Linked DNA regions of Homo sapiens. The protein of the gene in region 7 purifies or fractionates together with the protein of the main gene of each other region. This does not show direct contact. Each region holds a gene or a part of one and is shown on either strand. Other genes may lie near its edges. The genes, in order: CAND2, APOD, PDS5A, CSN2, CLPX, SMC1A and ARHGAP36.

What was found.
Region 1: the proteins of ARHGAP36 (region 7) and CAND2 purify together in Homo sapiens (affinity purification with mass spectrometry; one large-scale study listed by BioGRID and IntAct). This does not show direct contact.
Region 2: the proteins of ARHGAP36 (region 7) and APOD purify together in Homo sapiens (affinity purification with mass spectrometry; 2 studies listed by BioGRID and IntAct, with this or other methods). This does not show direct contact.
Region 3: the proteins of ARHGAP36 (region 7) and PDS5A purify together in Homo sapiens (affinity purification with mass spectrometry; one large-scale study listed by BioGRID and IntAct). This does not show direct contact.
Region 4: the proteins of ARHGAP36 (region 7) and CSN2 purify together in Homo sapiens (affinity purification with mass spectrometry; one large-scale study listed by BioGRID and IntAct). This does not show direct contact.
Region 5: the proteins of ARHGAP36 (region 7) and CLPX purify together in Homo sapiens (affinity purification with mass spectrometry; one large-scale study listed by BioGRID and IntAct). This does not show direct contact.
Region 6: the proteins of ARHGAP36 (region 7) and SMC1A purify together in Homo sapiens (affinity purification with mass spectrometry, with the first as the bait; one large-scale study listed by BioGRID). This does not show direct contact.

What each region holds. Positions count from the first base shown.
Region 1 is NC_000003.12:12,802,827-12,807,145, reverse strand, and holds part of CAND2 (cullin-associated NEDD8-dissociated protein 2), read right to left. Parts: intron 3,659-4,319; coding exon 3,515-3,658; intron 1-3,514.
Region 2 is NC_000003.12:195,570,254-195,573,940, forward strand, and holds part of APOD (apolipoprotein D precursor), read right to left. Parts: coding exon 3,597-3,687; intron 1,113-3,596; coding exon 1,024-1,112; intron 1-1,023. UniProt on the Homo sapiens protein: APOD occurs in the macromolecular complex with lecithin-cholesterol acyltransferase. It is probably involved in the transport and binding of bilin. Appears to be able to transport a variety of ligands in a number of different contexts.
Region 3 is NC_000004.12:39,897,355-39,901,673, forward strand, and holds part of PDS5A (sister chromatid cohesion protein PDS5 homolog A), read right to left. Parts: intron 3,154-4,319; coding exon 3,072-3,153; intron 1,472-3,071; coding exon 1,423-1,471; intron 1,175-1,422; coding exon 1,035-1,174; coding exon of another isoform or gene 1,002-1,034; exon of another isoform or gene 660-1,001; intron 1-659. UniProt on the Homo sapiens protein: Probable regulator of sister chromatid cohesion in mitosis which may stabilize cohesin complex association with chromatin. May couple sister chromatid cohesion during mitosis to DNA replication.
Region 4 is NC_000004.12:69,955,442-69,959,760, forward strand, and holds part of CSN2 (beta-casein isoform 1 precursor), read right to left. Parts: intron 3,629-4,319; coding exon 3,608-3,628; intron 3,513-3,607; coding exon 3,468-3,512; intron 2,364-3,467; coding exon 1,833-2,363; intron 915-1,832; coding exon 909-914; 3' UTR 873-908; intron 152-872; 3' UTR 1-151. UniProt on the Homo sapiens protein: Important role in determination of the surface properties of the casein micelles.
Region 5 is NC_000015.10:65,174,924-65,179,242, reverse strand, and holds part of CLPX (ATP-dependent clpX-like chaperone, mitochondrial precursor), read left to right. Parts: intron 1-191; coding exon 192-309; intron 310-4,319. UniProt on the Homo sapiens protein: ATP-dependent chaperone that functions as an unfoldase.
Region 6 is NC_000023.11:53,409,155-53,412,776, forward strand, and holds part of SMC1A (structural maintenance of chromosomes protein 1A), read right to left. Parts: intron 3,100-3,622; coding exon 2,841-3,099; intron 2,748-2,840; coding exon 2,607-2,747; intron 350-2,606; coding exon 267-349; intron 116-266; coding exon 1-115. UniProt on the Homo sapiens protein: Involved in chromosome cohesion during cell cycle and in DNA repair. Central component of cohesin complex. The cohesin complex is required for the cohesion of sister chromatids after DNA replication.
Region 7 is NC_000023.11:131,061,108-131,065,426, reverse strand, and holds part of ARHGAP36 (rho GTPase-activating protein 36 isoform 1 precursor), read right to left. Parts: intron 1-4,319. UniProt on the Homo sapiens protein: GTPase activator for the Rho-type GTPases by converting them to an inactive GDP-bound state.

The DNA.
Region 1 (4,319 bases), on a different chromosome or scaffold from region 7:
TATGCCAACATCGTTCCTGGGACCTCCCAAACCTACATTTCTTCTTGTGTTTTACGTCTCAGGAAATGGCCAAATAGTGCTCCAGAACAAGGGTTCTCAAACTTGAGGGTGCATCTGAATCCCCTGGCGGGCTTGTTTAAACAGATGGCTGGGCCCCACCTCCAGAGTTTCAGAGTCAGGAGGGCTATATCTAGGTGTGGCCTGATAGTGTGCATTTCTAGCAAGCTCCCAGTTGAGGCTGATACTGTAGGTGGTCCAGGGAGCACACTTGGAGAACCTCTGCCTTAGAGGCTTGCTTCTCAAAGTTTGGTGGTGAGTTAGCATTGGCAATGCCACTCGGGAGCTTGTTCAGGATGTGGAATCTCAGGCCTTACCCTACCCTAGATCTACTGAGCCAGGATCTGTAGCGCCACAAGGTCCCCAGGTGATTCCAATGCACAGGAAAGTGTAAAAACAGCGGCACTAGACGCCCTCGTTCTTGGCCTTAGTTGCCATCACCTGGGCCTCTAAAAAATGCCTACCTGGGCACTGCCCTCAGAGAGTCTCAGTTAATTGGTTTCAGATGTGGCCTGGAGGGGGTTGGGGGAGGGCTTTTAAAATTCCCCAGGTGATTCTAACATGCAGTCGAGGCTGACAACCTCTGCCCTACCTGAGTGGTTCTCAGACATTGGTGTGCATCAGAATGCAGATTCCAGGGTGCTATAGTCTCATCCTCTGCCCCAGCTCCCTTCCTGCTCCATCCCCTGAATCTGAATCCCTGGGCAGGGAATACAGGGTTTCAACAAGAGCTTCAGGTGACTGCAATGCACAATGGTTTTCTTTTTTCTTGATTTTTATTGAGATGAGGTCTCGCTCTGTTGCCCAGGCTGGAATACAGTGGCGTGATCATAGCCCACTGCAGCCTCAAACTCCTGGGCTCAAGCGATCCTCCTACACAGATGAGATTACATATTCAAGCCACCATGCTTGGCTAATTTCTTTTTTCAGTGTCTCGCTATGTTGCCCAGGCTGGTCTTGAACTGCTGGCCTCAAGTGATCCTCTTGCCTCAGCCTCCAGAATAGCTAGGACTACAGGCATGTGCACCATGGTTTTCAAACCTTGGTTCTCTCAACTTCCTTCTCCACAGCTCCTCTATCTACGTAATCATGGAGTCCTCCATCCTACCTCCTATAGCACTGGTTCCCACTAGGAGTAATACCACCTTGGCAATTTATGGGGGTCCTTGGTCATCAAAACTATTGAGTTAGTACTTCTGGCCTTTAAGGGGTTGAGAAGCAGGAACGGCAGAAAGACAATAATGTAAAACAAAGCACTGTCCATGCCCCGCAAGAGGTTCTAACATCCCAATGGGCATTTGTATAGGCAAAAGGCCTTTCTATAATTATCTGAGTCTAAAATTTCATTTTATACATAGACACAAAATACTTTTTTACATTGTTTTAATATACCACATTTTAGATTTTCTAAGAATGCAATTTTCAGGTAAATTGAAGGAAAATTCTACTTTGTTTTCTGGGAAACTTTATTGGGAGATGGTCACTCACTTTAGAAAATCCTGGCTGGGTGTGGTGGCTCATGCCTGTAATCCCAGCACTTTGGGAGGCCTAGGCAGGCAGATCACTTGAGGTCAGGAGTTCAAGACCAGCCTGGCCAACATGGTAAAACCCCGACTCTACTAAAAATACAAAAATTAGCCGGGTGTGGTGGTGCATGCCTGTAATGTCAGCTACTGAGGAGGCTGAGACATGGGAATCGCTTGAACCTGGGAGGGGGAGGTCACAGTGAGCTGAGATTGCACCACTGTACTCCAGCCTGAGTGACAAAGTGAGACTCTGTTTCAAAAAAAAAAAAAAGAAGAAAAAAAAAAGAAAATCTTGCCACTAAGAGCAATGGCCTCCAATTCTGAAACCTGAGTCCCCAACACCCCCTGTCTGTATCTGTACTCATGATGAGTTCACGTGTAGATGCAGGCTTCTCGTGACTTCATCACTTCTACCATCACAGTGCCCAAGCACGCATACATGGAAACACACATTACTATAAACTACATTCCTTCTAGTTTGCCTTTATGGTTATGGTTAGGGCATTATGTGTAGAGGTAGGTTTTATAATGTATGAATTTCATTTCCTAATAGGAAACGGTATTACAAACTATTTGTTATAAAAAGGTATTGGTTCTGCTGGTGTGAAACCCATCCTAAGTCTACTCCATGACCAGAAAGACATTCCCAGCTCATAAACTTGTCCATGTCACCTTCCTACATAAAACCCTTTACTGAATTCTCTCTGCTCTTGGGATCACATTGCAAATTCATTAACATGCCCCAGAAGAATGCCTGGACCCAGCTCACAGACAGTGGTTTGAGAGACAGTGCCCAATTCTCTCACCCTGTTGTCCCTTGATCCCTGGCATTCTATTTAAAATTACCCAGGTGATGCTAACCTGCAGTCAAGCTTGACAACCTCTGCCCTACACTAGTGGTTCTCAGGTGTGGGTGTGAGAATGACCCTACCACACAAGCATCCCCACGTGCTCTGCACATACCCTTGTCTTGTCTTTTTCTACTCGAGATAACTGGCCAACGTCTCAGGATCACAGCCTCACAGTGATCTAAGGCTGGGGCTTTTAGGACCTCTCCCAGTCCCATGTGCCCTAAGCCTTTTTTGTTTGTTTGTTTTTGAGATGGAATTTTTGCTCTTGTTGCCCAGGCTGGAGTGCAATGGCGCAATCTTGGCTCACTGCAATCTCTGCCTCCTGGGTTCAAGCGATTCTCCTGCCTCAGCCTCCCAAGTAGCTGTGATTACAGGCACGCACCACCATGCCCGGCAACTTTTTTTTTTTAATTATTATTTAGTAGAGACAGGGTTTCACCATGTTGGTCAGGCTGGTCTCAAACTCCTGACCTCAGGTGATCCACCTGCCTTGGCCTCTCAAAGTGCTGGGATTACAGGCATGAGCCACCGCACCCAGCCTTTAAGCCTTTACCACCTTGATGTGTGTCAGCTTGACCTTCCCAGCATTTACATCTGTCTGAGGGCTTTCTCTGGCTGGAGGTGGCAGGCAGTGGACAACCCTCCATCCTACCCCAGAAGCAGCCCTTAACCAATGACTACCAGGGAGCTGGTGGATTAATACCCCAGCTCCCTTACCCTTTGAGTGGGAAAAGTCCAAGGGACATGTCCTATACTGTGTCCCAGAGGTCCCCATGGGGTTAAGCTCATCAGGCCCACTGTGGTCACTTGCTTCGTACCATACCCTTGATTGGTCCTCTTCCCTTTCCTGCCTCACTTCCCTACTCCTCTACCATGTTTCCTGGGAGCGCCTCCCAAATAAACTTAGATTTGAATCCTTGTCTCAGCATCTTCTGGGAAAACTCAGACTAAGGTACCATTCAACGAGAGCTGCTCAGCAGGTCTCCTCTGCGAGGCTGTACCCCAAAGGGACAGCGGTCCCCAGGATGCTCCCACACAAGGTAGGGCCCCCTCTCCTGCTCCACCGAGGCTGACACTCACCACTTGACAGCCAGGTTCTGCACCTCACCGTTCTTGTCCTCCAGGAGCCGGAGCAGCATCTTCACCACCTTGCGCTCGCTGTCCTCGTCCAGCTGGATGGAGTCCTTCTGCAACTCCGACATCAGGTCGCTGGTGGCCATGAACCTGCACAGGGAGGGTGGAGGAGATTGCTGAGCAGCTCCTGGGCCCTGGTGGATTTGGGCAGTACCTCAGGGTTCCCCTAGAAGTAGACCTTAATACAAAGATTCGAGGTCAAATGCAGTCCTGTGTCACATAATGATGTTTTGGTAAGTGACAGGCAACATATACAATGGTTGTCCCATAAGATTATAATGGAGCTGGCCGGGCGCAATGGCTCACGCCTGTAATCCCAGCACTTTGGGAGGCCGAGGTGGGCAGATCACGAGGTCAGGAGATCAAGACCATCCTGGCTAACATGGTGAAACCCAGTCTCTACTAAACAAAATACAAAAAATTAGCCAGGTGTGGTGGCGGGCGCCTGTAGTCCCAGCTACTTGGGAGGCTGAAGCAGGAGAATGGCGTGAACCCGGGAGGCGGAGCTTGCAGTGAGCCAAGATCATGCCACTGTACTCCAGCCTGGGCGACAGAGAGAGACTCCGTCTCCAAAAAAAAAAAAAAAAAAGATTTTAATGGAGCTGCCCTATACAGGCATGCCATTTTAATCTTTTCTACCTTATTTTTACTGTACCTTTTCTATGTTTAGACACACAAATACCACTCTGTTACAACTGCCTACAGTACTCAATACAGGTTTGTAGCCTAGGAGCAACAGGCCACACCATAT
Region 2 (3,687 bases), on a different chromosome or scaffold from region 7:
CTAATGAGTTCAGTGATGGCCTGCGTCACTCAGCCCACCTGCACTTTAGCTCCCTTCTTGATAAAAATAACAAGAGAAACTGTGTATAAAGCCCTTTACAGTTTACAGAGCGTGTGTATCTGGTTTATTTTCACGACACTGGGCAGTTATTTCTGGCTTGTACATGTGAAGTTAGTTGTCCATATTCATAGTGTGAGAAGAACTGTTTTCTCCTCCCAGCATTCCTTTCTTGGTCTATAAAATTAGAACTTCCTCTCCTCCCCGCTCTAGGCACTTGACTGGTGTGGGGTGGAGGAGTGGCAGAGATGAGAAGTAGGAAGTGCAGGGAGTAACTTTTGTAGCTGATGACTTCAGTGTCTACCCTGCAGGTGGGAAAGGGGCTTTCAAGCACTCTTCGTGTTAGAAAGCCTCACAGTTCTGGGTTGAACTCTCTAGTGTATCTTCGTCGGAAATAAAACTAATATTTGGTGCTTTCTCTATTGCCTGTGTCCCTTCCTCAGTTAGCTCAGAACCCAGAGGCAAATGCCTGTCATTAGGTATCTCACAGGATCCCCAACAATGTGACTGGAAAGTGGCAGAAGCAGGATTCAAACTTGCCGTCACTCTTGTCATCTCTTGCTTCCTAGTTTCTGCGCCGTGCAGGTTGTTCTGCTAATATCTGCTAATGTTTCGGGCCCCAGTTTCCTTTGGGAAACAAGACTGGGTTGTGTCTTCTGCAGCCCACACCCGGTGTGCACCTACTTGTGTTTCACCTGTTGAAACGCTAGCTAGTTATAGTAAATTGCGGGGTCACGTGTCAGTATCCACACTGGGATGTGAGCTCCATAAGTACCAAGGCCAGCTCTGTCCGGCTCATCATGGCAACCCTAGTGCGTGACATGTAGTAAGTGTTTGACAGATAATTATGTGCTGAGTGATTATAGATGACACTCAGGTGTCTCAGGAATTCTCCAAGCCGGGGCGCTAGCCTTCAGTTTGCATATTTCCTGTCCCTGAATCCTCCTGGGAAAAGTGGATACTTACACCAGGAAAACTTAACTTCCAGCTTGGCAGGCTCTGTGAGGTTAACTGGGGTGGCTTCACCTTCGATTTGATTCACAGTTCCATCAGCTCTGCAGTGAGTTAAAAAAAGAAAAAATACAAAAAACGAAAAGAGAAAAGAAAAACAACTCATTGAAAGCCAATAAGCAACGAAAGGCAAGATTTGTGCCACTAAGGACCGTGGCAGCCAACACCGTGATTTCTGGTAAGAGAGGCTCTCAAAGGCAGGCTAGACCCTAGCTCCATGGCCTGGCCTTTCCCTTGTGACTGTCTCTGAGGCCAAGCAGGGGAAGAGAGCAGCGGGGTGATAAGAAGCCGCAATTGACAAGCTCCAGGATGGGACAGTATGTTAGGCCCTTGCACTTCAACACTATCTCTGACTATCTTCTATGGCCTGAAAGACCAATTCCTGCTCCCAGTCTCCAAAGAAAGGGAGAAAAGAGAATGGAAAAACAAACAAAACAACCCAACACACAAAGAAGATTCACTTTTTTTTTTTTTTGGAGATGGAGTCTTGCTCTGTCCCCCAGGCTGGAGTGCAGTGGTGCGATCTCGGCTTACTGCAACCTCTGCCTCCCCGGTTCAAGCAATTCTCCTCCCTCAGCCTCCCCAGGAGCTGAGATTACAGGCATGCACCACCACGCCTGGCTAATTTTTTGTATCTTTAGTAGAGACGGGGTTTCACCATGTTAGCCAGGCTGGTCTCAAACTCCTGACCTCAGGCAATCTACCTGCCTCAGCCTCCCAAAGTGCTGGGATTACAGGCGTGAGCCGCCGTGCCTGGCAGATTCACTTCTTTTTAAAACGAGAAGGGCCAAAGGTACAGATGAGGATGGACTTGATCACTGAAAATAATTCAAAACAAGGAGACATAAAAGCGTTCCCCTTCTTTGGGCCTCAGTGATATCATGTGACATCGCCTGTCCCATCAAGGGGCCTGAGTCCAGAGACTCCCTCTAGTTCAGCAAGCCTCTGAGTGAGTGTGGGGGATTTCAATGTAGGCCAAGTAAAAGGAGGCAGTGAAGAAACATTTACTTTATCTCAGTGATTCTCAGGTATGCCCAGATTTCAGAGACATTAAATGTGAAGAAATGCATATCTCACAATTGATGTCACCTGACAATTAGCAGTGTCATTCCTTTCTTAGTGGCATATAACGCAGTGGTGTGTCTTAAAAGCTGGGGGCTTAGATTGGATGCAATACTTTCACCTCTTTGAATGAGCCTGCTTTCTAGATGACTCCCAATGGCCCCATGAACTTGGGAGAAGGGGAAAGGTGTGGAGATGGAGGCACCAAAGGGAGGGTGCTAAGGCATCAGGGTGCTCTTCCTAGGAAGCCAACAGAGGAGAGGATGTCTGTTTATCAATCCTCAAGGCAGAGCAGGGAGGCCAACTGAAATTAGAGCAGTCGTATGTGTTAGAAAGTCAGTAGGTTGGCCGGGCGTGGTGGCTCACGCCTGTAATCCCAGCACTTTGGGAGGCCAAGGGGGGGCGGATCACAAGGTCAGGAGATCAAGACCAGCCTGGCCAACACAGTGAAACCCCGTCTCTACTAAAATACAATTAAAAAAAAAAAAGAAAGTCAGTAGGTTAATGCTATGGTTAGTGGTGACGGATGTCCTAGAAACAGGACAATGAGCAACAGGCCAGGGATTCTGGGAACTGTGCTCTGATGTTCCCAAGTACTTTCTCTGTTTATCACCATGTAAAGCTGGAGACCGTGCCCTCCTCTCTCATCTGGATCTCAGACAGCTGGGGAAGATGGTCTGTTTCTATCTGCATACGTTAACTTAGCAACAAACCAGTCTCCTCCCAGCAGATTCTGCCCTTTTCACCGTCAATTGCATTTTGCTCTAGAACGGTTTTCAGGACACCAGTCTCTGACCATGAAGTCACAACATGTTCATGGAAAAACTGCATTTGTATTTTCAAGAGTGGAAGGTGGGTAGGAAGGAGCTCTTCCTGGGGCTCTTTTTAAGTTTATAGTTGCTTTCCAAAGCGTAGCTTTTTGGATTAATTATTGTGTTAGAAGCCCTCAGTAATAGAAATGTACACTTCTAAAGGATATCCTGTTTACATAACCTAGAGTGTGAATGTTGTGTATGTGATTCTTGCTTAATAAGAAAAGGAGCTTTCTGATAGATTAAGCTGCCCAGAGATGGGATGAACTGTCCTGGAAGGCGATGAGCTCCCAGTTCCTGGAAGTGTTTGAACAAAGCTGGATGCTTCTGTCAGCAGATGGTGTCGAAGCGGCTTCTCTCCCAGACTGGAGGTCAGAAGAGATGGTCTTGATGTTCTTTGCTACCAGAGTATCTATTTTGCAGTGAGTGCAGGAACCCTGTCAGTTTGTGCCCCGCAGGTGGTCATGGAAATGCATAAGTGGATCCTAGTCCTTGCCATCCTTGCCTGCCAAACGCTTTCCTCTCAATTCCTGCTAGGAGCAGGCAGTCCCGATCCAGCAAGGTTCCCATCCTCCCTGACCCAGGCTGCCGGACACCCAGTCACTCTGCATCAGCACTCCGCAGGCCTGGCCCCGGACGCCCACAGCCACTCACCTCAACTCCTGGTTTAACACTTTGATCTTTCCGTTTTCCATTAGTGAGTAGTTGGCCTGGATGCAGCGTCCATTCTCAAAGGTTGTTGGGA
Region 3 (4,319 bases), on a different chromosome or scaffold from region 7:
TTGAAGGAGTTTGAGACCACCCTGGGCAACACAGAGACAAAAATTTTTATTTTTTCCTTTTCTTGAGACAGTCTCATTCTGTCACTCAGGCTGGTGTGCAGTGGCATGATCTCGGCTCACTACAACCTCCACCTCCCGAGTTCAAGCAATTCTCCTGTCTCAGCCTCTTGAGTAGCTCAGATTACAGGCATGTACCACCACACCTGGCAAATTTCTGTATTTTTAGTAGAGATGGGGTTTCACCAAGTTGGCTAGGCTGGTCTCGAACTCCCAACCTCAGGTGATCCACACGCCTTGGACTCCCAAGGTGCTGGGATTACAGGTGTGAGCCAATGTGCATGGCCTCCAAAAAATTTAAAAACTTAGCTGGGTGTGGATGCGTGTGCCAATAGTTCTAGCTATTCAGAAGGCTGGGGTATAGGATCACATGAGCACAGGACTTTAACGCTGTAGTGAACTATGATTGTGCCACTGAACTCCAGCCTGGGTGACAAAAGCAAGACTATCTCAGGAAAAAAAAAAAAAAAGCTGAATAAATGAATGCATAAGTTTTCCCTCCTGATAGCTTTAAGAATATTGGTTTTAAATGAGTTCAAGAGAAGAATGAAGACAAAAGTCTAGATAGGAATTTACTTTATCTGTAAATGAAACCAGATATATGGCAATGTTACTACTACTAATTTATTGACGATTATTTCCATTCTAATACATGAAAGAAGAAAATGCACATGTACACAAGCATTCAGAAAATACTTATCATTACTCAATGAATGTCTACTAAGTTCAAAGTACTTTATCTTGTAAAATTCCTAAGACCAATCTCCCTGGCTTAGTTCTTTAGTTATTTTCCTGGAATGTGGCTGAGAGTGAATGGTAAATAGAGAATTAACTTGACAATAGATATACTCCAAAGTAATTCAGAGCTCACAATATTGTTACATTTACACAAATCACTGTATGTAAAACAGGCTTTAATAAAATACATATTTCTGTAAGTAAAGCTAGAGAAAAAGTGTGAAGTATGATTTACTAACCACACAAATATCTGCTTGTTTGCAAGAACAGGTTGGGCTAATTAATAACTCCAACTGAGACCGAAGTTTCTCATCATCGCCGAGAACCTGGTTAAATTTCTTCACAAAATCTTGTGCTTTCCCGGGGTCAGGCAAATTCTCTATAAAATTAAAAGAGAATCAATATTAGAGAAGGAAAAAAAAAAAACTATTCTACTAAGCTAAAAACAGGTGCCATCAAAATATTGCGGAGCCACTAAAAGAAAATCAGCCTAGCTGGTTCTTAGAAACAAAATTAAGATAAAGATTATTTTCTTTTACTTAACATTAAATCAGTAGTCCCACTGGGTAAATACTTTGTCTGCATTTACGTTTACTACATGTTTAGTGAGTAAATAAACATACTCACTTGCTATGGTCATCAGTTTTCCAAACATGGCAGAACAGTTAGCCTCTGACTGAAATTTAAAACAGAAACAAAAGAACAACTAGTCATATGTGTTAACAAATTTCCCTAACAAAAATCAATACTCATTACTGTACATTTTTCATGACGTTAAAAAATAAAGTTCATCACAGTCTGCTCAATGGAAAATGGTTTTACCACATATATACGCTAAACTAACAACAAAGAATTACATAGTAGCAACTATTAAGACAAATAGAAGGAAAGGAGATGTTGGGAGGAAGGTACTTAAAAACCCACAAGTATATAACTTTCACAGGAAAGTTACATTGCCAGAAGATTGAAAAAAGATCAATGAAGCAATCAACATATAAACTTATCATATCAGAATTACTATGAAACTACATGCCACAAAAAATTAACTAAAAATATAGAGAAGAAACTTTTTTTTCTGCAATAGAGTTCTGTTAGCTACTTTGTGGCCCGTTACTTAAATACCTTCAGGAAAACCTCCTTTCTAAAACGTACTTCCCTTTCCTGTATCCCATAAAACATTACTTATTAGTTTTCATTTATACTAAATTTGAATAATTTAGTTCAAAAGTTAGAAAACTATGCCCCCATGAGCTACCTGTTTTTGTTAGTAGTTTCGATGGAATATAGTCATGTCCATTCATTTATTTATCGTGTATGACTAATTTTGCAAAGGCAGGGTTGAATATCTGACCACAGACTCTATGCCTTGCAAAATATGTTTTTGCTATCTGTTGATTTATTTTCAAAGTTTGCTAGGCTAGGTGCAGTATCTCACACCTGTAATCCTAGCAATTTGGGAGGCCTAGGCAGGCAGACTGCATGAGCCCAAGATTTTGAGACCAGCCTGGGAAACATGGTGAAAACTCACCTCTACAAAAAACATACAAAACCTAGCTGGGTATGGTGGAGCACACCCGTAGTCCCAGCTATTCAGAAGGCTGAGGTGGGAGGATCACCTCAGCCCAGTGACATCGAGGCTGCAGTGAGCTGTGATCATGCCACTATGCGACAGCCTGGGCAACAGAGTAAGATCCTGTGTATTAAAAAAAAAAAAAAAAAAAAAAAAAAAAGTTTGCCCGCCCCTGTTCCAGCATCCATGTGTCCTTGAGGGGTCTGTTTATATGGTCCCCTGGTTAAGAACACCTATTCTAGTGAACACACGTAAAAATGTAAAGTTTTTTTCCCCAACCTTGCAAAAATTTAATGGCATTTCTTTTTTAGTTTGCCATTGGCATATTTATAGGATTGATATCTGATATTCACTCTACACTGAGAGACCATGAATCATGCAGTGAAAAAGAAATATGATGTTTAATGTAATTTTATCTCAAAATTTAATTCTAATTATTTGAAAATTGATTAACTATAAACTCTTAGTGTCTGAAAACTTTATATAAACTAGAAAACACCATTTCTTTGCTCACACTAGAAAATAAGAGTTTGTTATATTTATTTTAAATGGAAATTTAGCTTGGACAACTACAGAAATTATATTTAACTGACATTTGGAAAATAAAACAACTGAGATACTTTTTCCCTGCTTCATTACGTAGAACTACAGAAAATCTGAACAGTGACTATAATAAACTATGAATTTAAACAAATCATGAACCTACTGTAGGCTGCTTGTGCAAATCCAATAGTTCGCGTACATGGCTCCGAAGCATGTTCTGACACTTCCACATTTCGTTGAGAGCTCTGTAAAGTTATGAATATGAAAACACACATTACATAACAATACTGGAAATTATTCAGCTTTACAACCTTTCTTGTTGCATGCTGTATATACACCATTCTTCTACATCTACCTAAAAGTTTAAATACCGGGAAATATATTTATTAGGATTTAAAACAATTTAGTACAAATGGTAAATATAAGCCTTCTTATGAGAGAAAATATTTGAGAGGTTTAGAAAGATTAATAAGTAATACAGGGATTGAAAGATGTACTAAATACAGGTAGCTAGAAAGTTTTGGTACAAGGAAAGAAAATCTCAAAGTGCAAGGGACATAAAACAAACTGAAAAACATGTATACGCTTGGAGCACAAGGCATGTGTGTGGAGCATAAGGAAGCTGGAGCATTCCACAGACACAGATCAAATCATGAAGGCCTTATTAAAAAGGCTAAGGCATATACATGAAGCACTATAGACTATTTTGAAAAATGAAGTATCAAAAATGATGCAGATTCAAGATGCCAAATTTACATTATTGTGTTTATTCTAAACTTTTCTCTCTCCAGGAACACAGATTTTCTTCTCTCAGAAATCCCATCCATATTTCCAGGTGCCCAGATGACCTCTGAGAATTACTAATCTCTAAACACTCTTTGTCAGATATTTTGAAATGTAAACAAACATCAAAACCTTAAGCAAGGAAAGGGATTAGTAACCATGATACAACACTATCGTAATAGAATTTCTGCCAAAATGACAGTCTTTTTTTCTTTTCTTTCTTTTTTTTTTTTTTTTTTTTGAGACAAGTCTCACTCTGTTGCCCAGGCTGCAGTACAATGGGATAATCTCGGCTCACTGCAACATCTGCCTCCTGGGTTCAAGCAATTCTCCGGCCTCAGCCTCCCTAGTAGCTGGGATTACAGGCGTGCACCACCATGCCCAACTAATATTTTTGTATTTTTAGTAGAGATGGGGTTTCACCATGTTGGCCAGGCTGGTCTCGAACTCCTAACCTCAAATTATCTGCCTGCCCTGGCCTCCCAAAATGCTGGGATTACAGGGGTTAGCCTCCACGTCCGGCCTAAAAATGCAGTCTTAATCTAATAATGCAGGAACACTTGAAGAAGCCACAATGGCAAACAGTCAAATTCCTAACTCAAAATTCTCTCTCTTTTTTAAGACAGAA
Region 4 (4,319 bases), on a different chromosome or scaffold from region 7:
TCAAATTTCAAATTAAATGAATGACATAATATATAAAATAAATAAAGGGACAAAGTTCATTTTTTCCATATAAACTCATTCAAACATACTTAATTTGGGGTAACGTGATACAAAGACGGAAAAGGCATCATATTTCCAGTCTCAGTCAATTCTGTGGAATAGAGAGCAAATATATAATTAGTTATGTTATAACACGTAACTATTCAACTCTCTTCACTTTTAACTTTGGTGTGACTAATTCACAAAAGAAATTGTATTGCAAATGCATTCTGTTGCGGTTTGGAGGCATGTAAAGTTTGTTCACCAAACTTCACCAAAGTTCATCAAATATTAGTGAACTTGAAATTGTTTCAGTGAAATGTCTGGTATTTCATAATCCCAAAAGGCTTTATATCTTAGAATTGCAATGCTGTTCTCTCCTCTTTTTAACCTTTACACTTGGAGTAATTTTAACTCATGAATTAAAAGATAATTTTAAGTAAAGTAAATACAAATTTTATGAAGGCTAGGTTAGAAATAAAAATGCAAATAGGCTTTTGACAAAAGCTCAAATGTATTTCCATAAAAGTAAAATAAGTATATATTCTGTCTTTCCTAAAAATAGTGATAATCAAATGTAAGTATATAGGCCCTTGAAAGCAAGCCAGTCAAATCTGTCAATAGTACATAAATAAAATTAAAGTTATTTGAAATGCAAAAGATAGATAGTTTCAGGTCAGTAAATGATAGTCAACCATTAAATTGATAATTAATAAAAAAAGTTCTTGTATGTATGAAATTTTCACTGTATTGGACTTCTCTAGGAGAATTAAATGTAAAAAGACATCATGTATAAAAATGATCAATTAAATCTCCAAACTCCCAAAACTTACCAAAAATAAGGAGGGAAAATTAACTTTGAAATCTTCTTAGACCTTAAAAATAAACAGATACAAATAAATAAATAACCTCTTAGTAAGAAAACTTGCCTTAAGAATGTTGTAAGTAGTGAAATAAGCATCTCCGTCTTTTGCCTTCATATATATTTACAGCAAAAACCAGATGTGAAGTAAGGCTTGTGTAAAATAAATAAATAAATAAATAAATAAATAACCTCTTAGTAAGAAAACTTGCCTTAAGAATGTTGTAAGTAGTGAAATAAGCATCTCAGTCTTTTGCCTTCATATATACTTATAGCAAAAACAAGATGTGAAGTAAGGCTTGTGTAAAAGAGATGTGCACAAGGAAAATGACAGAACATTTTTTAGCTTTTTTTTCCAAATTCAATCATATTATTAAATTTAATTCCGGCTTTTGTAAGCCTTAATTACTTTATCTAAATCAGAATTCTCAACAGACTAATTAAACCAGAATTCATGCAATAGTTTTTTTCTCAACACTCAGTTTCCTCTACACAAAAAACTAGAACAATTATATCAGAATCTCTGGGTAAGCTTAGGCATTGGGATTTGTGGGGAAAAGTTCTCCAGGTGATTCTATTGTATAGGTAAGCATTAAGAATCACTTATCTATGAGAACACATGGACACAGGAAGGGGAACATCACACACCTGGACCTGTCGTGGGGTGGGGGTAGGGGGTAGGGATAGCATTAGGAGATATACCTAATGTTAAATGACGAGTTAATGGGTGCAGCACACCAACATGGCACATGTATACATATGTAACTAACCTGCATGTTGTGCACATGTACCCTAAAACTTAAAGTATAATAATAAAAGAATCACTTATCTAAACTGTTTTTTTAATTCATTTACTCTACATTTATTCTTTTATTCTACCATCACATACACATCTTGAATGAAACAGCAAAGCCAGTAAATTTGGACTTACACTAATGGGGTTATGAACTGGGGCAAGTGGCTGAGTCACAGGGTAGATCTGGTGGGTGGGGTTAAGTAGAAGTTCTTGGTTGAGCAGAAGGGCTTGAACAGGCACAGCTCTCTGAGGGTAGGGCACCACTTGCTGGGGGATAGGCAGGACTTTGGGCTGAGGAACAGACCACAGGGGCTGAGGGGGAAGTGCAAGAGTCTGAGGAATAGGCTGAGGGACCTGCTGCATCAAGGGCTGGAGCAGAGGCAGAGGAAGATGCAGATTTTCAAGATCAGTGAGTTTTGGGATTTGAGGGTCAAAAAAGGGTATCGTTGGAGATTTAAGGACAGGCATCACTCTGCCCTTAGTGTAGACAGTGTCTTTAGCTTTAGGGACTTCCATTATTTCAGGCTGAGGGACAGGCAGCACCACAGCAGGCTGAGCAAGAGGCAGAATGTTTTGTGGAAGAAAACCATAGGGGATAGGTTCAACGAATGGATAGATCAGAGGCTGTGGCTGGAAAGAGGGGTAGATTTTATCCTGGTGTTCATCCTGGAAAGAAGGAAAAAGAATCTTTGAGTCCTTGATTAAGCTATAATTGCCATTCATAATGAATTCATTTCTCTCTTTTAGACAATGATAAATGAGTAAAAAGAGAGGAGAAAATATTTCACTTATTTTGGTTAAGAAAGTATCTTGAGTCATGCGAAGAAAAATGAGTAAACTGTTTGTTGAAAAATTTTAATCCACTCACTTCATGGGTAACTCCACAGGCCAAAGTGAAATCAATGTTTGGATATTTCAGAAACACTTTTTTTAACATTTTCCTGAATTGCCTGGATAGCTGTAGCTGTACACTTTGGTCTTCAGAGAGAATTTACTTTTCAACACAGTTGTGCCAATAGTAGACCAAATTGTTTTCATACAGTGAAAAGAGATCAGTTTAAAAAGACTTAGAGGGACAATTCCAAGGTTTATTTTTGTTTTGTTTTGGTTTGATGAAAAAGAAAATCAGTCTTAATTTGTGGCTAATCTCAGGAAGTAATTTAACACCGGCCAAATTCTTACATTCCTTCCCTTGGGAGAAGATAGTCTCTTGAGTCTTTCAAGAGACATCAATTTTTTTGTTTAAATTTGATTTTAGAAATATTTTATGTGACTCCAAACAATTCATTGGTACACAAAGCAATTGAAAATTATAATTGGGTAAACATATCACCATAAATGTAATTTAATGAAATACAGGATTTTGTGTTGTCCATATGGGAATAAAGGCAATATGGGACAAATTTTACATAGGTTTTTTTACCAGCCGTATACACCTTTTCATTACCATATCCACCTTGGAAATAAGAGGATCATAGTTCCCAACCTGGAAATGTTCCCACCAATGTGTACTTGTTGAAAACAGATATACCATTAGTAATATCATTATGTATTTAGTCTGTATTCTAGAAATTAATTATGAGTTTAAAAATGCATGCATATCCTAGAAAATATATTGACTTTATCAATGTTTAATTTTTAAAGTGGTTGGTGGGTATATGGCATTTATTTTATTATCATTCTTTAGAATCAACATACACATTATAAATATTTTTGTATGTATTATACTTTATAATAATTTTAAACATATACTTATCATTAACAAATTACCTCTCCTTGCTGCTGGTCCTCATGTTTAACCTTCTCAACTTTCTGCTAAAGATATATCATATATAAAGATATGTTACCATCTGTAAAGATTAAAAGGAGGAAATTTTGAAAATGTGTACATTTTAAATGTGAAAATTTACCTTGTATTCTGTAATAGATTCCTACAGAAAAATATAAAATAAAATTAGGTTTAGTTTTAACAATTCTTACTTTGCAATATAAATCAGGAAATAAAGGCATTAATTCTTTGATAATATCATTAATAACTTTGTATAATCATTAAACTTATGTATTAAACTGTTCTATATGAGCTTGTTATGTAAAAGAAAGTCAGATGAATGCAGTCAAGAAGGACATGGTACAAAAAAAAGCAATTAATAGATGCTAATTTCTCTCTACCACCATGCTCATTCCCTGACAACAAATGATATCTAAAACCCCATCTGATTTTTAAAAAAAGAAATACTCATTGAAAATATATTCTAATAACAATTGATACATTATGATCACTTCAAATGAATCATAAGAGTTAAACACTTCCCTTAAGGATCATATAACCTTTCTGAAGAGACAGAATCTATTGATGTACCATTTACTTATCAAGTGATCACACACCCAAGAAGAGTGGTGTAAGAATAAATATCTACCTGACTCTCTCAGGTAAATTTAGGACTACACTAAATCTCGCTTATTTACTAAAGTGGCTATTGTAATTATAAAATGTGTCCTTTTTGCACGTCTGCCTACCTACTACTTAGCAAGCTCTTAACTATCACTGGCATCTCTAACTTTTCAGTTTGTACCACAGCTCCTAGTCAATGTCTGACCCATAGAAGGCCGTCAGTATATGCT
Region 5 (4,319 bases), on a different chromosome or scaffold from region 7:
AGAACTGATTTGATTTTTGAAGTAAATAGATCTTCTGACACCAGTAATAGAATTATAAAATATACTAATAATTTCATCCTAGAAATATAGAAGATTATAAAATTAATTACAAACAGTATTGTTTACATTTAAGTTGGTTGCCTGAAACTAATAATTGACACTCTTCCTTTTTTCTCCTTCATAAACGTTAGAAATCAGCAAGTGAGGGAAGTAGTAAGAAATCAGGCTCTGGGAATTCTGGGAAAGGTGGAAACCAGCTGCGCTGTCCTAAATGTGGCGACTTGTGCACACATGTAGAGACCTTTGTATGTAAGTATTACATCTTCTACTGTTCTTTTTTCCCTACATTTTCTGTAAATTACTAAGTGTATAAAAATATGTAAATTATGTAAAATGTATAAATATAGGCCAGGTGCAAACGGCTTATGCCTATAATCCTAGCACTTTGGAAGGAGGAGATGGGAGAATCCCTTGAGCCTAGGAGTTCAAGACCTGCCTGGGCAACATGTTGAGACACCTGTCTTTCCAAAAAAAAAAAAAAAGCCAGGTATGGTGGTGCATACCTGTGGTCTTAGCTACTTCTTTTAAGAAGGTTGAGGCTGCAGTGAGCCATGGTCATGCCACTGTACCCCATCCTGGGTGACAGAGACCCTGTCTCAAAAAAAAGAAATATATATATATAAATTGTATTAAATGTGTAGAAATATGGATTATATGAAATAGATAAATGTATGTGACTTTGTATGTTATATAAATTATATGTAAATTGTATGAGCTTACCTGATTCTCTCTTATGTTCACTATATACTAGAAAATCTTCAGGACTGGTAATACTTTGCACTGTTGTGTAAGAGATAATTTAAGAAAAACATTTGCTTCTTTATTTTGCTTACTTGTGTTTATTTCAAATTAGATTTTGTGAATTTCTGGATGTGATCATTAGGCTATAGGAGAACCAAGACTTATTTATTCTGTATTTATTACTACTTTCTTCAAATACATATTGAATATCTCACATGGCTGGGAAGGCCAGTCATTCATATATTAAGGTAATTTCCCTTAGTACTTACCAAAGGAGGTAAGCCCTCAATTCCGGGAAGCATCTGATAATTATTAATGATTCAGACACTCAGAGAAGGAAGAAATCAGGGCTGGGCACAGTGACTCACACCTGTAATCCCAGCACTTTCAGAGGCTGAGGTAGGCAGAGTGCTTGAGCCCAGAAGTTCAAAACCAGCCTGAGCAACATGGCAAAACCCCATATGTATAAAAAAATAAAATTAGCTAGGCATGGTGGTGCATGGCTATAGTTCCAGCTACTTAGGGGCTGAGGTAGGAGGATCGCTTGAGCCTGGGAGGTGAGGCAGCAGCGAGCCAGCCATTGAATTCCAGCCTCGGCGACAAAGCAAGAACCTGTCTCAAAAAAAGAAAAAAAGAAGGAAAAAAATCATGTATCCTACTTTTGCTGTTAGTGTCAGTAACTCTCTGAAATGCAAAGATTCTACTACAGATATTTTCATTAATGAATCAAATAATCAAAAAACTCATTACTTAACATAATTTAGAGTTAATGGTAATGAATTGTACCACCATGTCAGCCTTCCTATACAATCCAATTGAAGAAAGCTTCAAGATTGTAAGACTTCAGTGTCTGATGGTTGGCTAGAGAGTATTCTCTATCTCCTAACCCTAATATTGAGACTTTGGTTACAATTTCACACTTACCATTAACCATAATTGGCCACCATATGAAAAGGTACTAGATGTAGTGTGTTTTTATGTACTGGAAAGACTTAAAGTAGCTCCATCCCATAGCTGGAATATTAGGGGTTCTGAACAAAATTTAATTTGGATCACAACATAAAATGAAAGTGGGCCAGGCGCTGTGGCTCACACCAGTAATCACAGGACTTTGGGAGGCCGAGGCGGGCTGATCACTTGAGGTCAGGAGCTTGAGACCAGCCTGCTCAATATGGTGAAACCCCATCTCTACTAAAAATACAAAAATTAGCCGGGCGTGGTGGCGTGCATCTGAAGTCCCAGCTGTTCGGGAGGCTGAGACAGGAGAATCTCTTGAACCTGGGAGGTGGAGGTCATGGTGAGCCAAAATCACACCACTGCACTTCTCCAGCCTGGGCGACAGAGTGAAACTCCATCTCAAAAAAAAAAGGTAGAACTGGATGATAAAACCTTCTAAACAAATTTGATGTGATATAATAAAATTATACAGAGGCTGAAAATTGTTCAATTTATAAGGTCAGTGTCTTATATTTTAATCAAGAAATTTTCCTCCTTTTTTTTTCTTCAAAGAAACATTTCAACCTTTATAGACCTAAAGAATAATTTGTTGCCAGGCGCGGTGGCTTACACCTGTAATCCCAGCACTATGGGAGGCTGAGGTAGGCAGATCACCAGAGGTGAGGCGTTCAAGACCAGCCTGGCCAACGTGGTGAAACCCCGTCTCTACTAAAAATACAAAATTAGCTGGGCGTGGTGGCGGGCACCTGTAATCCCAACTACTCAGGAAGCCGAGGCAGGAGAATTGCTTGAACCTAGGAAGCGGAGGCTGCAGTGAGCCGAGATCACACCACTGCACTCTAGCCTGGGAAACAAGAGTGAAACTCCGTCTCCAAAAAAAAAAAAAGAAAGAAAAAAAAGAAAAAAGAATAATTTCTTAGAGTAGAAAAGGAAAGAAACTAATATTTAATAAATGCCAACATATATAGTTTTATTCTTGCACCCTTAATTTTGCCAGAACAAAGAGTATTCTCCTTTTTATAAATAAACTGAGATTTAGCAAGTTTAAGTAACTCATTCAAGGTCACATAGCAGTGAAGATTTGCTATTCAGAAATTCCTATATCATACATTTCTACCATCTGGAGATACTTTAGGAGTAAACTAGCTCCTCTTGGGATTAAATTTATTTTCCTTCTATGCATTCTTTCCAAAACTTGCCAGGTTGTATTAGTCACTGAAGGTGACTGTTAAACTTAGAGATTCCCAAACTCCTTCCCTAGAGATTAAGATTCTGTAGATGTGGGATGGAGTCCTAGAATTTGTATGTTAGTAGTATATGTATATTATTAGTTAGACCAAGTGTGGAAACACTACTTTAGTGTAATCAATTCAAGGCTGAGGCCTGTTTGCTTTGAGAATTCTAATTGTGGGTGGTGATATGGGAGTAGAAAATGTAGAAGGAAAGAATGAAAAAAAGAGCACACACTTATGTGCAAAATTAATAGCAAATGTGTTGATTCAGACATCACTAGGCTCAGAAAATATGCAGATGATCATGACACTGTCCCTGTCCTCTAACTATTTGTAGGCCCTAGCAGTGCAGTGAGCCCCTCCTCCCTTAGTTTTGTGTACCCATAATAAAAGTCTTTTCAGAATGCATCCTTTTGAATCCTTCTGTGTCTGATCATTAAAAGTTGGGTCTTCATAGTCCTAAAGAGAGTTTTATTTGATCTCAGGTTACTAACAGGTTGAGCATCCGTAGTCTGAAAATCTGGAATTCAAAATGCTCTGAAATCCTTTTGAGTGCGTCATGACGCTTAAAGGAAATGCTCCATTGGAGCATTTCAGATTTCAGATTTCATGTAGGGGTGCTTAACCAGTGTATTTCTGTGAATATTCCAAAACGTGAAAACATTTGAACTCTGAAACACTTCTGGTCCCGTGCATTTTGGTTAAGGGATAACTCAGCCTGTTTTTTTGTTTGTTTTTTGTTTCTATTGTTTTTCTGAGGCAGAGTTTCACTGTTCTCACCCAGGCTGGAGTGCAGTGGCGCGATCTTGGCTCACTGCAACTTCTGCCACCTGGATTCAAGTGCCAGCCTCAGGTGCCTCAGCCGCAGCCTCCCAAGTAGCTGGGATTACAGGTGCCCACCACCATGCCAGGCTAATTTTTGTATTTTTAGTAGAGACGGGGTTTCACCTTGTTGGCCAGGCTGGTCTCGAATTCCTGACCTCAGGTGATTCACCTGCCTTGGCCTCCCAAAGTGCTGGCATTACAGGTGTGAGCCACCATGCCTGGCCTGCATTTTAAGTCTGCATTTATTTGGATACTAGTTTGTAAACATCTTTTTATATGCTTTTTGGTCAGTTGTAATTCTTTTGTGAATGGCCTGTTTAAGTAATTGTCTACTTTTTTGTAATTTTAATTATTTTTAATTACTTGAAGAATGCATATGTAGATCCTCCTTTATGAGAAAAGAATAGACCCTGATAGATGAAGCTATAAAGTTCTATAACATATCTTCATTGAACGTGTGATTTTTTTTAAAGTATAAATAGCATATTCATATTTTTGCAAATT
Region 6 (3,622 bases), about 78 Mb from region 7:
TAGCTGCTCCATCACCTGGTTCAGCTCCTTATTGATTTCATCAATACGCCGCTTGGCCATCTCCACCTCCTCTGTCAGCTCCCCCTCTAGCTTCTTCTGCTCTTCTAGGGACTGCCTACAAAGTGAGGGCACACAGGAGTTACTCCTGCTGGTGAGAAAATACTCCTGGCTCAGAGAGCTCTGGGGGTCCTGCATGAAGAGGGGCATGTAGGTAGGGTCACAAGAACAGGCCTGGAAGTAAGGGGGACAGATGCAGAGCTACATACTTGCTAGTGGTGATGTATTCCTCCAGTTTCTCAATCCGCTTCTGATTCTCTTCAATTTCCCGCAGCTTTTGCTTGATCTTGGCCTGGGAAACAAACATTCCATCATCAGGGGCTGCACGAGTTTACGCCAAGACCATGGGGGCTCTAGATCACACCCTTTATGTGCCCACTCATCCAAGAGCCGAACAGTCCAGGACAATCTGTCACTAATATAGGAGGCCTACTAAAAAGCAGACATAGATGGTGTTCGGTTTGATCTACTAACTAATGATGGGGGCCTCCCAGAGCTCCAGAACCTCTCATAGGTGTTCTACCCAGCCAAGGCATCTTCTTCACCAACCATGGAGGCTCAAATCAAGATAAAGCTTCACAGGCCTTTCTGTACCTGTTTCCTCATCTGCAAAATGTGGGTAATCTCCACTGCATAGAATACACATTAAGTGCTTAATATAGGGTTGTTATTAATATTAATGACTATCACATTATTTTTAAAAAATTTTTATTATTTTTTAAAATTTGAGACAGGGTCTCACTGTGTTGCTCAGGCTGATCTCAAACTCCTGGCCTCAAGTGATCCACCACGCCTGGCCAACATTCTTTTAAATATTTAAAAGTGCTTAGCAGAATGCCTGAACACTGTACACTCCTGGGACACTATGACAACTTTCTATCATTGCTGTTATTACAATATTGATATCAGGGAGGCAGTAAGTAAAGTATATTTGGTAAGAGTGTGGGCTTTAGAGCTACAATGCCCAGGGTCTGGTTCTGATACTTAATAGTTATGTGAGTGGCCGGGCACGGTGGCTCGCGCCTGTAATCCCAACACTTTGGGAGGCCAAGGCAGGCTGATCGCAGAGGCAGGCAGGAGTTTAAGACCAGCCTGGGCAACAAGCAGAAACCCTGACTCTATAAAAATTAAAAAATTAGGAGGCCGAGGCGGGCGGATCACTTGAGTTCGGAAGTTCAAGACCAGCCTGGTCAACATGGTGAAATCCCATCTCTACTAAAACTACAAAAAATTTAGCCAGGTGTGGTGGCACCCACCTGTCATCCCACCTACACGGGTGGCTGAGACACAAGAATCACTGGAACCGGGCTGGGTGCGTTGGCTCACACCTGTAATCCCAGCACTTTAGGAGGCCAAGGCGGGTGGATCACCTGAGGTCAGGAGTTCGAGACCAGCCTGACCAACAAGGTGAAACCCCGTCTCCACTAAAAATACAAAAATTAGCCGGGAATGGTGGCTGGTGCCTGTAATCTCAGCTACTTGGGGAGGCTGAGGCAGGAGAATTGCTTGAACTTGGGAGACAGAGGTTGTAGTGAGCCGAGATGGCACCATTGCACTCCAGCCTGGGCAACAAGAGAGAAACTGCGTCTCAAAAAACAATAAAAATAAAAATAAAAAAATAAAAAGAATCACTTGAACCCGACAGGCAGAGGTTGCAGTGAGCTGAGATCATGCCACTGCACTCCAGCCTGGGCAACAGAGTGAGGCTTTGTCTCAAAAAAAAAAAAAAAAAAAGTAGCCAGGCATGGTGGCAAGCACAAGTAATGCTGGATACTCAGGAGGCTCTGGTTGGAAGATTGCTTAAGCCTGGGAAGTCGAAGCTGCAGTGAGCCATGGTCGCACCACTGCACCTCAGCCTGCATGACAGAGAAAGACTCTGTCTCAAAAATAACAATAATCTTGTGACCTTAGGCAAATTACTCTGTGTTGTAATTTCCTCATTCATAAAATAGGGTAATAGTAGCCATTCCATAAAGATAATAATAAATGAAGAATTAAATGAGTGGATACATGTAAAGAACATTGCCTATCATACAGTAAGTGCTCAACAGATGTGAGCTACTGTCATTATCATTGTCATTATCATTAAGATTATCATGGCCAGGCGCAGTGGCTCAAGCCTGTAATCCCAGCACTTTGGGAGGCCGAAGTGGGTGGATCACAAGGTCAGGAGCTCGAGACCAGCCTGGCCAACGTAGTGAAACCCTGTCTCTACTAAAAATACAAAAATTAGTTGGACATGGTGGCGCACGCCTGTAGTCCCAGCTACTCAGGAGGCTGAGGCAGGAGAATTGCTTGAACCCGGGAGGCAAAGGTTGTGGTGAGCTGAGATCACATCACTGCACTCCAGCCTGGGCAAGAGCGAAACTCTGTCTCAAAAAAACAAAAAAACAAAAAAAAAGACTATCATTACAGGTTGGGTAACTCTAATCCAAAATGCTTAGGACCGGAAACGTTTCAGATTTTGGATTATTTTGGATTTGGGATGCTCAACCTATATATATCCTTTTCTGTGGACCATCATCCCTAATCTTATAACTATAGCCCACCTCTGTCTCTACTTTCTTCCGTTCTTCCAGATCCAGACGGTCCTGGTCAGCTTTCTGGTCTCGATTGAATTTCTCCAGCTCCTGGGCCAGGGTAGCTGCTCTCTTGCTGGCTTCTTCTTTCAACCGGTGGTATTTCTTCACCTGTGTTAGGGACAGGGAAGGAGAACAGGGATGACCAAGTCAGCAGATGTCAGCCCAGGGATCTCCTCCCTGCCAACCCCTTCCAGAGCTTACCTGATTCTCCTCCAACGTCAAATCTCTGCCCTGACTCTGACTCTCTTCTTCCATCCGTTCTTCAAACTCCTGCCGAGCCTTCTCCACTGACAGCATCTCCTTCTCCAGCTCATCCATGTCACCTTTACGCTTCTTGTAGTGCTTCTGAGCATTCTGCAGAGACTTCTTGGCTGCTTCCAGCTTCTTGATTTTGTGGGAGGTGTTCTCCTTGGCTTTGATGTACTGAGGCCGCTTCTGGTTCAATTCTGAGTCCTTCTCCCTTTTGCCAGAGGGGTGGGGGAAACCAGTGAGAACTATGGAAGAAGGGAGGGTTCCCAGGCTTTTCACCCAAAGGAGAGCTTGAGCCCCTGAGCCAACCTCAGGGAATTACTTAAAAGAACATGGGCGTAATGCCCCACAGATCCTGAAAAAAAGGGGCAGTCTGACTACTCCCTGAAAGGTATGACTTCAGCCTGGCATTCCAGCCACTCCATAAGGCAAAGCTACCAACTCTGCCTCAACCCTGGCCAGGAAGCTCATTAACAACTCCCAAGAACATCCTGTATTTACTTAGTTGGCCCCTCAAATTCCTATCCTTTAAACTTCTAGCTTCAGTTTCCTCTTCTAGGAAGGCCTTCTCAGCCACTCCATTGGCTCGGCCTCACATTGGTTCCTCTTTCTTGGCAAGGCCACCACCCCTTTTGAGTTCTCCCTCATCTGAGCACCTGTCTACCCAGGGCCTGAGTGCTTAAATATTCTATTTGTCTAAACTGCAAGTCAAGAAATGTGCCTGGTTCTTACAA
Region 7 (4,319 bases):
GAGGTTCTGCCCCTGCTTCTCAACACCAGCACACACACATACGCACAAATGCATAAACACATCGCTAGACTACCCATCTAAATCCTGTTGTGTAAGTTCCACTTTGGTTCATAAAGACCATCTGGTTCACTCCAGCTCAGTGTTCCTGCCTGTGCAATGGAAGACAAACTTCAACTCTGAAGAAGCCAAAAGCTCCAGGCTATGTCTCCAAAGATGCAGTCCTGGGCCAGGGGCTATTAGAATAATTGAAAGCTATCCTTCTCTAATGCCCCCCACCCATATAATTGGGGCAATAAGAGGGGCTATCAGAATCCCTATCAATATGCCACCACCATGGGATGGACACACAGACACGCAGACACACACACACACACACACACACACAAACACACACACACTTCCTTGGAGCTTAAAATCGCTGTCATAAGTCTCTCTCTCTCTTTGGAGTTCAGAAAATGTGTTCCCATAACATGAAGATTATATGGGGAATTGTAAAGGTGAAAATGCTTTACTAACTCCCATTACTGTCCAATATAAACAGAGATTTGTTTGATTTCACCCTAAATATAAGAATCTGGAGGAGCAGGGCACCAAAATGTGGATTTTTGTGGGGAGAGAGATCATGGTTTCCCCATGAGAGTAAAGCCCTTGAAAATCAGGGCTTTTGTTTTTTCCATGTGGGGAGGGCAGAGAAAGACCACAGGCTTCGGAATGAGACAGCTTTGTGTTGGTATCCCAGCTCGAGCACTTACTTGCTGTGTGATCTTGGGAAGGATACTTCACCTCTCTGAGCCTCAGTTTCCTCAACTGTAAAATGGAGATGTTAACACCTGCCTAGAATTGCTCAGATGACTAAAGGAGGTAAACCATAGAAACCACCAGCCAAGTGGTTAACAGATACAGTAAATGTTTAAGAAAAGGTTAGTTAATTCCCTTCTGCACTTTTTTTCGTTCTCATGTAGCCCAGAGTGTCTCAACCATGGTGTTCAGGGAGTGGAGCCAACTGACTAAACTGCCAATTTTCCTCATTACTGGCTTGTCTGACACTCTTGAAATAGTCCCTCTTCTTTTAGGAAGATGTTTGATCAGCCTAATGCAGCCCCGGAAGAACTGGACCTTAAGTCCAATTCTCACTCTGCAGTTTCTCCTCGCAGTGTTAATGAGACCAAGGTTTCAGATGTAATACTCCACACAGGAAAGTTTCAAACTTTCTGCTCACTGTCCAGACTTCCCTCCACCCCAATTGCTGACCCAGCCCCAACCCAGTCTCCTAAATATGTGCCATTGTGCCCCAGAAAATAAAAGCATGACTATTTCCTGGCTAAGATTGCCCTATGACTCCTGTTTTGCTTTGCCCTCACTTTCACTCTAGAAATAATAGTGCCTAAGACCATCCAGTTTCTAGCAGCCACCTACGTTGAGGGGTAGATGGAATGATAGAGAAAGATATGATGGTTCTCTGAGATATGCTATGCAGCACTTAAAATACATCTCTGATTAGCTTTTATTCATATGTTCCCAATGAAAGGAAAATAAATTCTACTCTTTGCCAAAACTAGTGAAGTGGAAGAAGACCCCAATCTGAACCCCCTCCTCCCTGGTGCTTTTGCCTCCCTCTAGAGACAAAAGCAAGTCACTGCAAGCTAAAGCTGCATTTAAGCAGGGAGCGGTGGTGGAAGATCAAGAAATTGGGGGCGGGGGAGGGGTGGTGGTGGTGGATATAATCCCAGGGAGGGATAAAGAGACTACAGAGTAGAGAGGTATTGAGATTCATGGCAGGAAAAGCTCTGAGAGGTCCACCCCTAGATGTTCCCAGACTCTGGAAGGTGCCTTCAACTCCTCCCTCTCCTTCATCCCTTCTATTTATCCTGCATGCTACCTTCACTAACCCTAGATTCCTCCTTGCAAGTGAGTCCCTCTGAGGATTTAAGAATTTCGAAAAACTTCTCCAGCTCCTACCCCTGTATGCTTCTGTGGAAATCCTGGAGCCTTAGCTTTGAAAAGGGAAATGGGAGGGGTAGCAATTAGGTGTCAACCACATCAGACAGAGAATAGTTAGAGCAGGGGTTCCAGATATGCCCATGCCACTTAGTAAGTTTCCTTAATAAGCAGGGACCTACCAGCTGCTGAGTATTGAGTACTCATCCCGAGGAAGCCGCGTGGTTTCTCAGGAAGTGTATCTGAGACGTGACAGTAGCTGCCAAGGCTCATCAAACATGCCATCTACCTACTTCTGCTGATACATGTGAGAACAAATGATACTGCCGAAGGAAACAGAAATCGTTTCTTAGTGACTCAGAGCCACATCTATGAGGACACAGGTGGTGCGTTTGTATTGCATCTTTCAGTTGAAATTCCTTTTCACAGAAAGAAATTTATAGATAATCAAATAAGTCAAAGACCAGCATCTGGGTCCTGGGCAAAGTATCACCAACATCATGTTGACCACCTAGTAAATGTCTGCCATATGTCAGCATAGGAGTTTTGCAAATGTTTCTCTCTTTTAATTTCACTCAAGCTTCGAAGTCAGATCAAAAAGGATTGTAATCCCTGCTCAGCCACTGTGTGACAGTGGGCAAGTTACTAAACTTCTCTGAGATTTTGTCCTTAAAATAGAGACAATAATACTAACCTCAGAAAGTTGTTATGGTTAGAGATAGTTTATGTAGTATGACTGGTATTTACAAATAGTAAACATTTGGGAAAAAAGCTTCTTTTGATAACTGAGCCATAGAAAGCATTTAACATAATGACATCTACAACAGCAGTAATAAGAACTATTATTATTATTTACAACCCCAAAATATAGACATTATTATGTCATTTTAAGAGAGGTTAAGTAACTCTCTCACAGCAACCTTATAAGAGCTGGCCTGGGATTCAAACCAGTTGTTCCTCTTCCCACCCAGAGTTAGTGGAAATTTCATGATCATTGGGAAGATCATGGTTGGCTGGCCGGATCTAGTCATTACATTTAAACTAAAATTAGGAGAAAAAATTCTTTAAACTATGTATAGTGAAATTCTAGATCACTGTATAGATTATTTGCATATCACAGGTACTAAATTTACCCTTGTATGCCTTTTTAAATTATAACAGTAATTGAAGAACAAACTTCATAGACTTTAGAAAACATAGAGAAAAATAACTATTATCCCACCACCTTAATAGATTCTCTAACTTTATCTTATTGTCGATTTCTTTCTAGTCTTTCAAAAATGCATATTTGACAGTTACAATCATACCATTTTCTATGTTGTTACATATTCTTCACAAAAACAATTTTTATGATTCTGTGCAATCTAATAAGGGGATATATCACAGAATTTATTTAACCATTCCACTATTGTTGGACATTTAGGTTGTTGTAGTAGGTAGGTGTGAAAAAAAAGGAATGATGTTACTTTCACCATTGCCATAATCACCCTCACGGACCTGGTGCCTTGCTGTATCAGTGCTCAATGCTTTCCATCATTTGATATTTAAGCCTGATAAATGTCAGCTCTACTGCTGGAGCCTGAGATATATTTGCAAGAGTATTATTTTCTGCCAGTTTTCATCACACAGATTCTGTATTTTATCCTCACGATGGGTAAGGTATGGGCTAAGCTCTAGAGCATCACATTTTTTTTCTTTGGGAGAAATGTATTTTGAGGTACAAACAAGTAATAAAGAAAATTGGGGAAGTCCTGCCATTGGTGAATGGGGGTGCTTATCTGACGACCTGACTTGGAGAATGGGGTGTCTCATTGGTCTCATTGGCAGTCACGCCCCAGCTTTGGAAACTGATCCTGCTGCAGCACAACTAGGCCTGGCCTCAGCAAATCGATTCGGTCCCATCTCCAAGAAAAGATCAAATTTGTATGTAAAGTGCGCCCCAGGGTCCCTTCAGCTTTAGAGCTTTGGCTGCTTTACAGAAGTCCAATTGTTTGAGGCCAAATCCAATGCCAAGAGTGAACTGGGGAGAGAATTTCAAGTGGGTCAATTGTGCTGTCTCTTTCCCTGGGAAAGAAGGCCTTTCTGGGCCCTCATTCCTCCCAGACCTCAGTGATGCCTCTCCCAAGTGCCTTCCTATGGTTGCCCATTGCCCGTTGTCGCCCTGAAAAATCTCTCTGATGCAAACCAACGTGGCACATGTATACCTATGTAACAAACCTGCACGTTCTGCACATGTATCCCAGAACTTAAAGTAAATTTTTTTAAAAAAGAGTTGAACAAAAAAAAAAATAGCAAACATCAACAAAAGAGTGATGATATTCTAATGAAGACAAAATAAACCTGCCCCTCAAAAAAAAAATTGCTGTCACATGCCAGCTATC